2 separate regions of the Homo sapiens genome follow, and region 1 is linked to region 2. A link means that fine-mapping ties the variant in region 2 to the expression of a gene that starts in the linked region. Tissue or cell type: whole blood. Region 2 holds a variant in brackets; the other region holds the start of a gene. All regions are shown on one strand. Distances are from middle to middle.

Evidence for each region. PIP is the estimated chance that this variant, and not a neighbour inherited with it, causes the effect.
Region 1: it holds the start of TMEM220, and the variant in region 2 is fine-mapped to the expression of TMEM220 in whole blood (INTERVAL, PIP above 0.99).

The regions. Positions count from the first base shown.
Region 1 is chr17:10,725,570-10,733,672 of GRCh38, forward strand. TMEM220 (transmembrane protein 220) reads right to left here and starts at 4,454. Exons shown (of 6, transcript NM_001004313.3): 1 at 4,211-4,454; 2 at 3,462-3,491; 3 at 635-695. The coding sequence starts at 4,282. It overlaps TMEM220-AS1 (TMEM220 antisense RNA 1), which reads left to right and starts at 4,208. Exons shown (of 4, transcript NR_073458.1): 1 at 4,208-4,331. RefSeq lists enhancers at 3,906-4,492, 4,493-5,079 and silencers at 4,093-4,262, 4,273-4,512.
Region 2 is chr17:10,668,994-10,677,096 of GRCh38, forward strand. SCO1 (synthesis of cytochrome C oxidase 1) reads right to left here. Exons shown (of 6, transcript NM_004589.4): 6 at 3,481-8,103. It also overlaps a transcript of MYH3 not described here. Among named protein-coding and RNA genes, the nearest start is that of MYH3, 16 kb to the left of the region's middle. The variant CTTTT/C (reference allele first, on the strand shown) is at 4,005.

The sequences.
Region 1 (8,103 bases), 57 kb after region 2:
CGTGGCATCGTGAAGATGTGAATGGGGGGCTGCAGGGCCACTGTGTGGAGCCCAAGAGTGAAGTTAGCATGACAGATGGTGGAACTGAGAGGTGGAGAGAAGGTAAAGTTCCGAGTCCACCAGTCTGAAGCCAGCACCACCCTTCACCTTTTCAGTAAACTGTACCAATACCTTTTCTTCTCAGCTCATAGCACATTTGAGTTATTTTCTAGCTTGTATCTAAAGGAGCCCTAACTGATCTACCTTAAAGATGCAGACGGAGTTCTAGCTGCCTATACAAGGAGCCCAGGCATCTAGGGAACTAGAATTTTCCCCACTAAGGTGGGACTCATTAGTCTTTATTCTAAGGCCCCTGAGAACATTCGAGCCCCACTAGGAGAAACTGTTTTAAAGAAAGTGAAGAAGAATCTGTCCTCTCACTTCTATAAAACAGAAGACGCTGTTTTATAGCAGATCCTTCTGACGTTTTCCTGAAGATGGGTAAGGATGATTAGAATTAGCCCCTTTTATTATCAGAAATGAGAAGAAAGGCCTAGAGAGCCCCGTTTTACTCCTGGGAGTTGGGCAGATAGACCCTCATTATTATGAGGAAATCTGATTTGCTGTCTCTCCATTTAGAATGCAAGGCTTATACCTGTGACTTCAGGGTTAAGTCCAACAAGCAGGGTCAGTACTGCAGGGATTGTGTACACCACCTGTTAGCAAAAAGGGAGGAAATTACATGAGTTAAGATGTATGCCCAATATATGAGATGTTCAGAGATACAGGAAGTAAAGAAAGATGAGATCAGTGGCTGCTGTGCCCCATGATTTGCCTCTAAGTTTCAATGGTGATTGAGAAAGTGGTAGATTCTCCTTTTGTGGCACTTAGCACGTCTGCCTGCAATTTTATCTACCTTCCTCCTAGACTATAGGCTATTCCAGAAGCTCATTTATCTTTGAGCTCTAACACTGAGCACAGGGTTTTGGTCTTAAGACACACTAACTTTCCAGTCGCTCCCAAGCAACTTTCATGCCCAAATGGCCTTTCCCCACTTGCATAAAAGAAAATGTTCTTTGAAAAGTAGGGCAGGAGCAGCCACGATGCTAGATGGCCCTGCTGGCTTTGGACCCAATGGACCATCCAGGCCAGTACTGCATCTCTGTGAGACCACAGAAAGTTTTCTAATAATGCATACACAATCAGCTGTGCCCAGTAATAAGGTCAGGCTCTTCATTTTGGAACTGCTGATAAGTGTTTGGAAATGAGAAGACTAGCCCTAAAGAGGCCCTATTCCTAAGCCTTGTTCATAACAAGCAGGCTCTAGCCAAACTTACTATTGTGTGTGTTGTTGGCAGGGAATAAGTAGGGAGGGTGGGTTTATAAGAAGGATGGGGACTTTCCAAACAATGTAGCTGTCTAATCACATCAATTTCTGTGCTTATATCAGAAGATGTTAAGGCAGGTGCCAGGGGTCCATGTGGGAGGTAGTGGAGGGCTGAACTGTGAATGAGGGAGGATGTCTATGGGGACATGGGGTCTATTCCTCCTATTATATCGTCTGAGCATGAATGAAAGGTAAAATGTGCAGGTACTATAGAGATAAGCAATTAGACCTCGATTGTTTAATTAATTTTTTGGAGATGGGGGGGGTCTCGCTATGTTGCACAGGCTGGCCTCGAACTCCTGGGCTCAAGTGAGCCTCCTGCCTCAGCCTCTTGAGTAACTGGGACTACGGATGCCTGCCACCATGCCCGACTCAAATTTATTTTGTGTTTTGAGGGGCTCTCCAAGGCAGTGGTAAGGAACAGAGAGATGATAAAGATGACTGAGATTCTGAACAAGAATGACTCAGAGAATGATTCTGCTGATAACAGAAATGGGTGAGTCAGGATAAGTAGATTTTGGAGGGAAAGATGCTAGGTAGGTCCTTGGGCATATCTGAGGAGCAGTGTGACATGCAGGTGAATATACGCAGCAGTCTTTTGGAAATTCACCATTAAGCTGGATGTCTGAGACTTGTCTGCAGGGAAATAATATTTGGAATTCAAGATACGGACCAGGGTGCCAAGGCAAAGGCAGTTTGATTTGATTCAGAGGCATACTGATCTGGATAGTAAATATCAGAATGTGGTTTTACTGCACTAAAAAAACAAAACCTGGATAGAATTTCATGTTATAATTCCAGATACCATCATCCTTGTTGCTCCTCTGTCAATATTATTCTAAAGCTTAAGAGTCATCTCCTTGGTGTACTGTACAGTCTTGTGTATCTATATTGAGAGAAACTGGGCAAAATTCAGATATTTTGGAAGATAAAAGATATTTAGAGCCGGGCGCGGTGACTCATGTCTGTAATCCCAGCACTTTGGGAGGCTGAGGCAGGTGGATCACCTGAGGTCGAGAGTTCAAGACCAGCTTGACCAACATGGAGAAACCCTGTCTCTACTAAAAATACAAAATTAGCTGGGTGTGGTGGCGCATGCCTGTAATCCCAGTTACTTGGGACACTGAGGCAGAAGAATCACTCAAACCTGGGAGGTAGAGGTTGCGGTGAGCCTAGATTGCGCCATTGCACTCCAGCCTGGGCAACAAGAGCAAAACTCCGTCTCAAAAAGAAAAAAAAAAAAAGATATTTAGAAGATGTATGGAACAATGGCCCCCTCCTCCAAATGGTTCAAATCAGAGCCTTGCTTATATGAAGACTGTAGGTTTTACAGGATTTAATACTTTTCTTTGCTTTTTTTTTTTCTTTTTTTTCTTTGCTTTTTTTTTTTTGAGATGGAGTCTCACTCTGTCGCCCAGACTGGAGTGCAGTGGCACGATCTCAGCACACTGCAACTTCTGCCTCCTGGGTTCCAGCGAGTCTCCTGCTTCAGCTTCCCTAGTAGCTGGGGACTACAGGCGCATGCCACCACGCCTGGCTAATTTTTGTATTTTTTGGTGGAGACGGGGTTTCACCATGTTGCTCAGGCTGATCTAGAACTCCTGACCTCAAGTGATCCACCCGCCTTGGCCTCCCAGAGTGCTGAGATTGCAGGCGTGAGCCACCTTGCCCAGCCAGGAGTTAATACTTTCTAGAAATATAAGTCACTGAATTAGCAGAACCTCAGAACTTAAGCCTGTTATTTTCCGGTCAAAGGTTTGCATTGAGTGTCTGGCTAGAAACTCATAAGGAATTGTTCAACTGATCTTGAGAGGCCTACTCTAGGTCCTCAAGAAAGTCCTCAGTTGGGCCATCTAACCAAAGGGAATACTGCAGAAAGACCTGTTTCCAGAAAGTTCGAAATTCACACACACATTACATTAGAACTCTGATCCTGCCTATTAATATTTTAGGAAAAAGCGCTTCCCAAGGGTTTGATTTTTAAGTTTCTCAGAAAATTAAGCAGGGAGGAGGGGTAAAGACATAAAACCGTGTGTTTTGTGCCGTTCCCCAATTCTTCCAAACGGAGGAAAGCCTGGAAGCGGCTCATACTCACCACCCACACCTCTGCATCTGGGTCATTTACCTGGAACGCCAGAATACCAAGGTGTTAGCAGACATCCTGTGCTGTTCCATTCCTTTTAAATTCATTTAAGCACATTTTTTATTAATTTGTTAAGTGCCAGACACTGCAATAGGCATCGAGGGTACAAAATCTGAACAGGATATAGTCCAGATGAGGACGGGTGAAGGGGTTTCTGGCTGACACAACAGATGTTTTTAACAGGCAGCCACACATTTTTGAAAAGCCTTCACGGGAGCTCTGGAGAGGACTCGCCAACCCAGAACGGGTATTTTAAGGGCCCTCCACCCCCACCAGTCTCAAGAAATGAGGGAAATGATTATGAAGGGGGTCCCCAAGCCGACTAAAAAGTTTAATGATGCTATAAAGGGTTTTGGTCGGCTTCGTCTCCTAGGCCCTGAGATATGTTCAGTGTCGTCCGCGGGCCGGACGTTAACGCAGGAGCCAGGGCCGCTTCTTCTGAGGTCCCCTGGGAAGTTCCACGCGCGGAACCAGCCCCTTCCAGGGTGTGAGCCCTGGTATGGGACTCGCTTCCATGAACACATCCGCGTCTCTTAGACGGGGGAGAAAGTGGGGGCTCCCCAAGCAGAAAGCCCAAGTCCCGTCCTCCCCACTAACTGTGCGCCCCTGCGACTCTGCCCGCTAGTCAGTTACACGGCCCGCTAGGCCAGGGGGCGGAGCTGGGAGCCGGGCGGGTCCCCCTCCCACCGCGGCCGCCTGACCTGCACCAAGGCCGCCAGCGCGAAGAAGGCGGCCATGAGTCCGTTGCAGGCCCGCCACAGCGCTGGCGCCATGGCTCGGAGAACACGGCGCGGGGCGGTGAGTCCTGCCACGTGCGGGGCGGTGAGTCCTGCCACGTACGGTCCGCCTTCCTCCTTGCGCGGAGGGACCGAGACCCCCGCCTCGGTTTCGGTGCCTTGGGGACACTGCCGTGGCCGTCGCTCCGCCCGGGGGCGGGGAGCGAAGGGCGTGGGTGTAGCCCCCACTCAGCGACCCATTCAGCCCGCCCCGAACGCCGCGGGGTGTAGGCGGCGCCGTCCTGGTTTCGCGGATGGGAAAGCGAGTCCCTCAGGGAGCGCAGGTCTCGGTGGTGGACGGAAGTCGAATTTGAACCCGTATAGGTTCAACTCCAAACCCTGTTTTCACTAAAGCTACCTTCCTCACAAAAAAAAAAAAAAAGAAGAAAGAAAAAAAAGAAGGAAAAAAGGAAGGAAGGCAGGCGGGAGGGGAGAGAGGAAGAAAGAGAAAGAAAGAAAAAGAAAGAAGGAAAGAAAGGGCTGGGCGCAGTGGCTCACGCCTGTAATCCCAGCACTGTGGGAGGCCGAGGTGGGCGGATCACCTGAGGTCAGGAGTTCGAAAGCAGCCTGGCCAACATGGTGAAACCCCGTATCTCTACTAAAAATACGAAAAAATTAGTCGGGCGTGGTGGCGGGAGCCTGTAATCCCAGCTACTCAGGAGGCTGAGGCAGGAGAATTGCTTGAACCCGGGCGGCGGAGGTTGCAGTGAGCCCAGATTGTGCCACTGCACTCCAGCCTGGGCAACAAAGCGAGACTCCTCAAAAAAAAAAGGATAAAAATTGTTTTTACAAAAATAAGAAAGAGAAAGAAAAAGAGATGTGTGTGTGTGTGTGTGTGTGTGTGTGTGTGTGTGTGTGTGTGTTCTGTTTAGTATTTATGCATTTCCTTCCAAAGCTCAGGAACTTTCAAATCCCTGTAAGCATTATGGTAATTTCTAGAGTGACGACAGTTATATTAACATCTTATACGGCTCACAGCTTTTCGGCAGACAGGCTCATTTATCTTCATGGGCTTTTATTATAAAAGATATTTACATATTATACATATTTACAATTCTCTCCCACCACCAAAACCAACAAAATTTCCAAAATTGCTCATGAATTTCTTATGAACCGAAGACACTGAAATATTCACTGTTCTCCCCTAGTCTGTCTGGTCTTTTTCTGTTTTGTAATTCGCCCTTCTGCTTAGTTCCTCCCCGGGCTCATTTACACATCCATAGGCCTCATTTCTGCTGTTCTAAAGAGTCTTTATCGCTTCAAATCAGGAGCTTCTGTGCCTGTCCTCTTTTCCTTTGAGCTAAATCTCCTAAAACTGTCTAGTTTTTTTTTTCTTTCCCTCTCAGTTTCATTCTTTTCACGAAACACTTATTTCAAGAACGTTGTCTGCTCTGTGCCTGGTGCTGGGACCGTGAAGGTCCCGTGCCGGGACTAGGCAGGGAGCCTGGCGGCTGGCGGGGGTGGGCACCCGTGTTTGCAGAGGTGGGGTGGGGACAGCGGGGACCAGCACTGGGTGGAGTTCCACAGCTAAATCAGCCCTGGGATTGGAAACAAGCGAAGACTATTCTCACTGTGCTTTTCCTTACATAAAAGAAAAAAATGAGAGCGAGAGTGCTAGGGGCTGACTTGCATTCCCCCTGCACCCCCAATTCATATGCTGAAGCCCTAACCCCCAGTGCCTCAAAATGGGACTGCATTTGCAGACAGGGACTTGACAGAGATGATTAAGTTAAAATGAGGTTATAGGGTGGACCCTAATCCAATATGACTAGTGTCCTGATACGAAGAGGGGACAGTTACAGAGGGAAGACCACATGGGCACACAGGGAGAAGACGGCCGTCTGCAAGCCAAGGGGAGAGGCCTCATGAGAAACCAACCCTACCAACATCCTGAATTTGGACTTCCAGCCTCCAGAACTGTGAGAAAATAAATTTCCGTTGTTTAAGCCACCTAGACTGTGGTACTTTGTTGGGACAGTCCTAGCAAATTAATACAGGGAATGATTATAATACCCACAAGGAAACAATGGCATGGAAGTGCTTTTAAGCTCTTGAATGCCATACAACCACCATGAAGTTTTATAGTTTTCACTGTTGTCTGGGACTTTCTTTTTTTATTTCTATTTTTTTGAGACAAAGTCTTGCTCTGTTGCCCAGGCTGGAGTGCAGTGGCACGATCTCAGCTCACTGCAACCTCTGCCTCCTGGGTTCAAGTGATTCTCCTGCCTCAGCCTCCAGAGTAGCTGGGACTACAGGCGCCCACCACCATGCTGGGCTAATTTTTGTATTTTTTTTAGTAGAGATGGAGTTTCACCATATTGGCCAGGCTGGTCTCGAATTCCTGACCTCATGATCTGCCTGCCTCGGCCTCCCACAGTGCTGGGATTACAGGCATGAGCCACTGCACCCGGCTGGGACTTTCAAAGTCACCTTAGTGAGCGTCTGTTGGTTTTGCCTTTGCAGGGTTCAGTCCCCTTTCTTCGAGGATCAGTGTCTTTAGTACTGTGGATTACCACATGCACTATGGGTGGATGTGGACTACAGGGTTGACCGTGCTCCCCTCCTTTTGGGGATAGGCAGGTGACTTTGGCCTGCCAGCTGACATATCCCATTCTGTTGACCACTGTGATTGGGTCTAGGATGGGTATAGGATCCAAATTGCCCAGATTCAATCCTAGGACCTATATGGGACTTAGGTTGTCAGTAAAGGACAACCTCAGTTGAACTGAATTTTGGATCATCAATGATGTGTTCCAAATATTTGCTAAATCTGGCAATCCTACTCACACTATTAAAGAGAAGCTTTCTTTGTGATGAATGTGTAGAGCTGGTAGAATGTGAGCCTGGAGCTGTCAGGAGAAAGCCTCACAGGGAGAAAGGCTTTCTGCAGGTGAAGTTTAAAAGCCTGGATCCAGCCATGCCTGAAAATGGAAGAATCTCACAACCAACAGAGTCTCTTCTTTACATAAGCCCGTGTGAATTGGGTTTTTGTAATTTGCAACAAAGAATGATGACTTGTAAAGTCATGATTCAATAGTTAAGGCAATGTGTGAAATCCTTGCAAACCTCCTGCTATAGGTTTGTCCAGGCTTTGCAGAGACACGGAAGAGAAGGCTTAGTCTGAAAAGTAATGAAAAATACGTTTAAATGAATCCAATATCTCAGACAGCTCTGCTTGAAGAGTAATTTCATTTCCCTTTTTAGCAAAAGGCTATGATACAATACTGCAGAGAAGATGAGGTTTTAAAGGCAGTAGGGTCTTGTCAAAGCTGGCTTCCCTCTGCAGAAAGGGCAGCACAAAGGACCCTTCATCCTGCTGGACACTCCCTGGCTGCCCAGTCAGTGACAGCATCATAAAAGCAATTGAGCCACAGGAGTGAGGTGAGCTGGACTCACTTCCCCGCTGGAATCCGAGAATGGCTGGACATCTGCCCTCTGAGAACTTGGAAATAGAGGTGCTTGCTTATTCCCTGAGAGTAGGGTTGTTAATCCAATGCTAAGAGTTGGAGCAGAGACAGGAAGCTCATATAAAGACACAAATGGCCTCCCAGGGTCACAGGATTGAGAGAGAGAAAATGAATGCATGAAAGTACGTAAAAGAAGAATGTCAGCAAAGGAGGATTGATGGGCTTGGAGGCTTCAAGTTAGGTCATCTGAAAGGCAAGCGTAGACCAAGTCCATCCTCACACAGACTGGAGAGAGTGCTTTGCTCCACCAGATGTGGACACTCACATTTCTTGGTCGGGCCAACCTCTTTGGGGCTTATGTGGGTTGAAAATTTCACAGGCTCAACCCTCCCCTTGCTGTGATTCCAGAAG
Region 2 (8,103 bases):
CTCTGAACCTCTCTACAATCCCAGGGGTTAGGCAGAGCAGGTGGAATTATCCCCACTTGATTGATGGGGAAACTATGACTCAGTGGGGAATGTTTGCCCAGGGCAACAGGGCTGTGGGAAGACCTCATGTCCCAGGATGTCCTGCTGCCCCGCAGGGATGTGAGCCCTAATAGCATCTTTTAGGATTACAGGACAAATAATTTTCCCTATACAAATTAAAATTTCTTAAATATTTGGGCCTCAATTTCCTCCTCTCTTACCAAAAAAGTGGAGTTGAGGCCGGGTGCGGTGGCTCACACCTGTAATCCCAGAACTTTGGGAGGCCCAGGCAGGCAGATCACTTGAGGTCAGGAGTTCGAGACCAGCCTGGCCAACATGGTGAAACCCCATCTCTACTAAAAATACAAAAATTAGCCAGGCATGGTGGCTGGCGCCTGTAATCCCAGCTACTCAGGAGGCTGAGGCAGGAAGGCTGAGGCAGGAGAATCGCTTGAACCTGGGAGATGGAGGTTGTACTGAGCTGAGACCACGCCATTGCCCTCCAGTCTGGGTGACAGAGTGAGAGTCCATCTCAAAAAAAAAAAAAAAAAAGAGGAGTTGAACTAAATGACCTCTTAAGTCATCTTCAGGTTGGGCACGGTGGCTTGCGCCTGTAATCCCAACACTTTCGGAGGCCGAGATGGGAGGGTCTCTTGAGCCCAGGAATTTAAGACCAGCCCTGGCAACATAGCCAGACCCCATCTCTACAAAAAATAAAAAACAAAAAAATCAGCTGGGCGTGGTGGTATGTGCCTGTAGTCCTAGCTACTCCAGACGCTGAGGTGAGAGGATTGCTTGAGCCTGGGAATTTGAGGCTGCAGTGAGCCACGACTGCACCACTGCACTCCAGCCTGGGTGACAGACTGAGACCCTGTCTCAAAAGGAATAAAGAAAATAAAATAAAAAATCATCTTCAGCTCTGCTATCTTCTGATTCTGTGATTTAAGGCACAAGAGAGATTTACTTGGACCAAAGCACTGGCTTTATCTCAAAGCGTGTATGTATGTTGAAGGTGGGGAGGCAGAGGCAGCTGGGTTATCAGTCCCACGTGTGACATTCTCCAGGGGGAATGTCCATGACAGTACATTACCAACAACATTTCCTTCATAGGCTTGAGTTCCGAAATGCCTCTCTCCAACCAAAAGCAATCAAGCACACACTGCAACAATAAACTCCAGCATTTCTGTTCCATGGCCAAAGAGTAGTAGGTCAAGGGAGATACTACTTTTACCCACAACCCCTGCAGGCATCATCAGTGGATCACAGCACCCAACATTTGAGCCTGGCCACGGCTTCATAATCATACTTAGTGCTGTATTGTAGGAAGCAAATGACTTGACTGAAATTGACCCAGAGATAAACTATCTTACTGACACTAGACTATTTTTCCTAATGATCTTTTTTTTCACTGTCAGTTTCTCCAAGTGAAATTTACAGTGTTTTGTTTGTTTGCTTGTTTGAGATGGGGGTCTCACTGTGTTGCCCAGGCTTGTTTTGAACTCTGGGGCTCAAGCAGTCCTCCTAGTTCAGCCTCCCTAGTAGCTGGGATTGCAAGCACATGCCACAGTGCCCAATTAATAATGACTCTTTCTTACTGCAAAGTTAATATATGTTCATTTAGGAAGATGTGGAAAATAAAAAGCCATCCACAAACACACCACTATTATTAATGCCTGTTAAGGTTTGGGTATTTTTTGTGCTTATGCAAACAATGGGATCAAACTTCTACGGCTTACTTGCTCAAAGTACATATTGGATATCTTTTCAGATCATTAAATATTAATCAATAGCTCTATTTTAATGGTTCTACGGTACCCCACTTATGAATGTACCACTGTTTTATCTGCTGTAATTGTTTTTGTCTGCTTGTTTTTTGAGATGGAGTCTTCCTCTGTCACCCAGGCTGGAGTGCAGTGGCGCGATCTTGGCTCACTGCAACCTCCAGCCCCTGGATTCAAGTGATTCTCCTGCCTCAGCCTCCCTGAGTAGCTGGGACTACAGGCACGCACCACCACGCCCAGCTAATTTTTTTTGTACTTTTAGTAGAGACGGAGTTTCACCATGTTGGCCAAACTGGTCTCGAACTCCTGACCTCAGGTGATCCGCCCGCCTTGGCTCCTAAAGTGCTGGGATTACAGGCGTGAGCCACCATGCCCGGCCTCTGCTGTATCTTATGGATGCCCTAGAGTTGGGCATCTAGGTTGTTTTCCATTATTTACTATTTCCATGATTATTACAAAAATACTGCAGTGAACAAATTCTTGTGCATATCTATGATTCTGTTAATAAATGCATAAAGATGGAATAGCTGGCTTGCTGTATATCAACAAATTGCTACCCAGAAAGACTGCCACACTTCACATTCCATCGCTTTCCATGTGAGAGTCCATTTTACCCCCATCCTCAATGGGTAACATCATTCTTTTAGTGTTTTGTCAAACTGAGACAAAAATTCCACTGTTTGAATTAAATTATTAACTATTTGTATTCCTCTTTTCTGAAGCTGTTTGTGTCCTTTGCCCTGCTTTTTCTCAGGGTCATTTTTTTTTTTTTTTTTTTTTTTTGAGACAGAGTCTAGCTCTTGTCGCCCAGGCTGGAGTGCAGTGGTGTGATCTCGGCTCACTGCAAGCTCCGCCTCCCGGGTTCATGCCATTCTCCTGCCTCAGCCTCCTGAGTAGCTGGGACTATAGGCACCGGCCACCACGCCCGGCTAATTTTTTGTATTTTTAGTAGAGACAGGGTTTCACTGTGTTAGCCAGGATGGTCTCGATCTCCTGACCTTGTGATCCGCCCGCCTCAGCCTCCCAATGTGCTGGGATTACAGGCGTGAGCACCTGTAATCCCAGGGTGGGAACACCCGCGCCCAGCCAGGGTGTTCATCTTTTATTTCCTTATGAATTTGTAAACACTGCTTATATATCGGTGATAGTAACTCTTTGTTATATATTTTTGATCAAGCCTAGTAATGGTTTACTTTATGCTTTCTGCCTTTGCTGTCATGCTTACAAAAACCATCCCTACTATTTTAGTCTGACTTTGGTGGTTACAAAAACAGGCTCATTCTGAACCTCCAGAGAAAGAAAGGGAGGAGGCAGTGGGTATTGTAAAACTCATGTTCATTTTAAAGGAGGACACAGACTAAGAACCTAACTTGTTTCATTTCATTAATCACTGTTCCAATATTTTTAATAATCTTGATCATCATACTATCTTTGTTACATAGTAACGTTTTACATAATATGGATCTATTCCATACTTTTATTTCCAACTGGATCTTTCTGTTAAATGCTACATAAGTACTACACTTTAAAAAAAGTATTATGGCTCAGCAATATAGATTACTATTGATAAGGCAGGTCTTTCCTCCTTGGTCTTATTTTTCACATTTATTTTTCCAAATCTCAGAATCTTTCTGTTGAGCTACAAAAAAAAAAGACACTGTAATTTTTAAGTAAGGTTTATTGAGGTATGTATATTACAATTCACCCTTTTAAAGTGCGCAGTTCAGTGAGTTTTCACAGATGTATGCAGTTGTGCAGCGACCACTACCAAGACACAGATCATTTTTACCACTTCCCCAAATCCCCTCCTGCCCCTGGCAATCATTTGCCACTGCAATATTATTAGGCCTGTGTTGAAGACTTAAGTCAGGAGAAAACTGACATATTTACATTGAGTCTTCTCACCAAGGAACAAACTATTTTCTTAATTAATAGCTCATCATTTTTTCCAAAATTTTATAATTTTCTTCCCCTGGATCTGAGTCATTATTACATTGATTCTATTTATTATAGATTCTGTGTGGTTATTGTGAATTTAGTAATTTTTAAATACAGTAGGCATTGATTTTTGCATATTTACAACTGGATGCTGAGTAGATACATAAAACACTCAAAAGAGAGTTGAAGTTTAGGTGCACTAGTTGGCACTTTGGGGCCTCATGTCTAAAAGCTGCCCTAATTTTT[CTTTT/C]TTTTCTTTTTTTTTTTTTTTGAGATGGAGTCTTGCCCTGTTGCCAGGCTGGAGTGCAGTGGCATGACCTCAGCTCAGTGCAATCTCTGCCTCCCGGGTTCAAGCGATTCTCCTGCCTCAGCCTCCTGAGTAGCTGGGACTACAGGCGCCCGCCACCACGTCTAGCTGATTTTTGTAATTTTAGTAGAGATGGGGTTTCACCATGTTGGCCAGGATGATCTCGATCTCTTGATCTCGTGATCTGCCTTTTCTTTATCTTGTCTGGTTATGTGCATCCCAGAGGCACTCTCCAGGGCCTACTTTTTATATCCCTCGTACTCAGCTTAACATAGGTATTCCGCAATGTTGACGTCGTCAATCAATCAGTGAATGACTGTCTTGTGCTGTGATCCCGCACGTTCCCGACAGGGCTTTCTGAATGTACGGGGCTGAGGCTGGTACAGGGAAAAGTGAGCCATACAAAGGCCTGCCCTGCTTCGGGCACTGAACGCTTGCCTGTCTCCGTTAGGAATGGAATGTAATCCTTGCAGGGCTCTCTGCCCCACTTTCTTCTGTAACTAAGACGGCCTTAGCAGAGCCTGGGCTGACAGGGAAGCAGGCAGTTAGTCTCTCAGTCTATTGCATCAGTGGTTCTCAGCAGCCTACTGCACTAGGGCCAACAGAGATCAAATGATCCTCAATCAGGTTTCAATTGAGTATTTGAGAATGCCTACATGGAAAGACTGCACTGAGCCCCGATAAGGCCCCACAGGGTAACCAAGCAGCATCTCTCCCTGCTTTTTGATCATATTATAACAACTCGATGGAGAAACGCTTGGTATACTGTGCTGAATAGAAGTTCTGACAGGGAGTGACAGTCGTCTTTGACAAAAATTTCAAAAGTGGGGCAATTAAATAATTATCAGAAAATGGAATTTGTTTATTTGAGAGACTCTTCAAATTGTGTTTCATGGGAGCGAAATTAAATAAAGAGCTTCCTGGAGGGGGAAAGATTACTTAATTCATTATTCTTTCTTGACTTTTTCCCCTTCCCTATTGGGTAAAAATTAATAGACTCTGTGGTATTGGGGGTTGAGGAGAATCCATGTGCCTAAGACTGAGGTGGGGATCTTGTTAAAATACAGACTGTGGGCCAGGCGTGGTGGCTCACATCTGTAATCCCCAGTACTTTGGGAGGCCAAGGCGGGTGGATCACCTGAGGTCAGGAGTTCAAGACCAGCCTGGCCAACATGGCGAGATCCTGTTTCTACTAAAAATACAAAAATTACCATGCACGCCACCGGGCATGGTGGCGGGCGCCTGTAATCCCAGCTACTTGGGAGGCTGAGGCAGCAGAATCACTTGAACCAGGGAGGTGGAGGTTGCAGTGAGCCAAGATCGCACCACTGCTCTCCAGCCTAGGCAACAAGAGCGAAACTCCATCTCAAAACAAACAAACAAACAAACAAAAAAACAGACTGTGATTGAGGAGAGCTGGAGTGGAGCCTGAGAAGCTGCATTTCTGCTAAGTACCCCAGTGGTGTGACACTGCCGGACCACAGACTACACTGAGTAGCAAGGCTGTAGAGGGAGTCTGAGTATTAGCTTTGCTACAAACTTGTAGATAATTCACCACTTGGGCCCTTCTTCCTCTATACAGTGAGGACATACCAGATGGTGTGTGACACGTCTGACATTGTGATGGCGAAACCACCTCAAGGTCCTCACGAAACCTTGGTGGCCAAGGCCCTTGGTATGACCTCTTGAGACCAGGAGGCTCTCACAGGCATCTACAGAGCTCAGCCTTGGCCCCTTACCTTTGCATCATCCTTGAATGGAAAAAGGATCACGGGCTGCCAACTGCAGACCCACCCAGGAATACTTCAGATGGCTCAAACACAGTGGTAATGTCCCTGGCTTACTCCATCAAAATGCAGTGAGCATCATCAGAGTGGTCCGGAGCTTGACTGACAACGACCAGCTGCTGCTCACCACAGCAGCCAACAAGGAATGTGCCCACTCTCCCCTTCAGTTTGCTCCTCCTCAGTGTCAGGGTCCCAGGGCCCTAGAAGTCTCTAAAAGCCACTGAGCAAACTTCTTTGCCTCTCAAAGCTGTGGCAACTTTAGGTCCGTCCTCCAGCTTAGGGGTGACTAGAGCGATTGATTTCCTGCCCCTTCAACTGAGGGTGAGAAGACACTGTCTCTGGGGCCTAAGTGTGGCTACTCTGCTCTGCCACACCACACCTGAGGCCCACTCTCCTACCATCTGCCTCCTGCTGTTGCTGAAGCTTGCTGACACTTTCTCCACGCTGTCTTCTTTCAGGCCTTCTCTCGCCTGGGCAACCTGATGCTGGCATTAGCTTTTATCTCTCTGCCCAAGCTACAGCAAATTGCTGAGAGCTGTCCAATGCATTCTCCACATCACAGACTTGCTTTCTTTCAAGACTGCCTTTTGCAGGGACTCTTTTTCCCCTCTACTTTTCTTTTGGAGTTATAGGGTGCAAACAGTAAAAGGCATAAATCTTAAGTTCAAAGTTTAATATGTTTTTATGTATGTAAATCATCACCCAGATCAAGCTACTGAACATTTCAATGGCTCTGGAAGCTCTCCTGGCACCCCCTTCTGAATTACTAACCATCTCACCTCCTGCCAGAGTTAAGCACTATTCTGACTTTTAACACGATGGGTTAGTTTTCCCTGTTCTCCTAGTATCATACTTCATCCTAACACAATTATTCCTGTTTTACAAATTTAAAGAAAAAAAACACCCAACAACGAGGACAAATGCGTTAGTCTTTTTAAACTGGTCCAACCTGAATAACGCCACCCTATGTTTAAGAATGGGAAGAGAGGCTTGGCGGGGAGGGTTGTCTTTCCCTAGGGTTGTGTCTTCCTTGAACTGGGTGCAAACATGGACAAAGTCACATGTATGACATGGAGACAACACATCCCCACAACGAACTGCATCATAGCTCCTTGAAATCAAAGGACCAAATTATAAACGAGTTTACACTGACTGGATATTTGATATTAAGCAAAAACCAAACGACAAAATCCAAGAGCAAAAACAAAAACCTTTTTGCTGTGCTGATGAAACTGTGGTTGTTTTTTTCTTTCTTTCTTTTTTGTTTTTTGAGACAACTCTTGTTGCCCAGGCTGGAGTGCAGTGGCGTGATCTCGGCTCACTGCAACCTCCGCCTCCCAGATTCACACGATTCTCCTACCTCAGCCTCCCGAGTAGCTGGGATTACAGGCACCCGCCACCACGCCCGGCTAACTTTGGTATTTTTAGTAGAGACGGGTTTCTCCATGTTGGTCAGGCCAGTCTCGAACTCTCAACCTCAGGTGATCCACCCGCCTTTGCTTCCCAAAGTACTGGGATTACAGGCATGAGCCACCGTGCCCAGCCAACTGTGGTTGTTTTTAAAGGACAAAGTTGGTCTCTTTCAGAGGCACATGCTGGGAATGGGCTGGGGTGGCAGTGGGTGGGGGGGTGCAGACAAAATTAAATGGTGGTAATCACTGAAGCTTGCTGATGGGTACATCAATTAGTTAACTATTCTACTTTTTGAATAAGTTTCCAAATTTTCACAATAAAAAGGAAAAAAAGAAAACTCAAGTTTTCTTTCGGTTAAATACCCACATCAATGTTCTCATGAAATAGTGCACAGAGTCAGTGACTTTAAGGCCCCTTATGAGGGGGACATTAGCATCCTCATGTTGAAGATTGAAAGGAAATACCTCCAAGTATTATTTCTTGGTAGTGGAACAACAGTGATTGAAAATTTTCTTCCTTCAACTTTTCTGTATGCCAAACTTTCTTTACTGAGGATATAGTATAATTACGGAAGAAGAGCCAACAAACTTTCAAATACATTGGAAAAGTATATAGAAAATAATTACCCCTATAAGGTCTAAAGGTGTTATTAAGGAATATGTGGCTAAAGAGGCTATTACTTGAATCTTGTTAATGAATAGAAATAACCGTCCATTTTGTTACACAGTAATATAACCCCTAACTGGTAAGTAAAAAGCACAAACTAGGCCGGGCGCAGTGGCTCACGCGTGTAATCCCAGCACTTTGGGAGGCCAAGGCGGGCGGATCACCTGAGGTT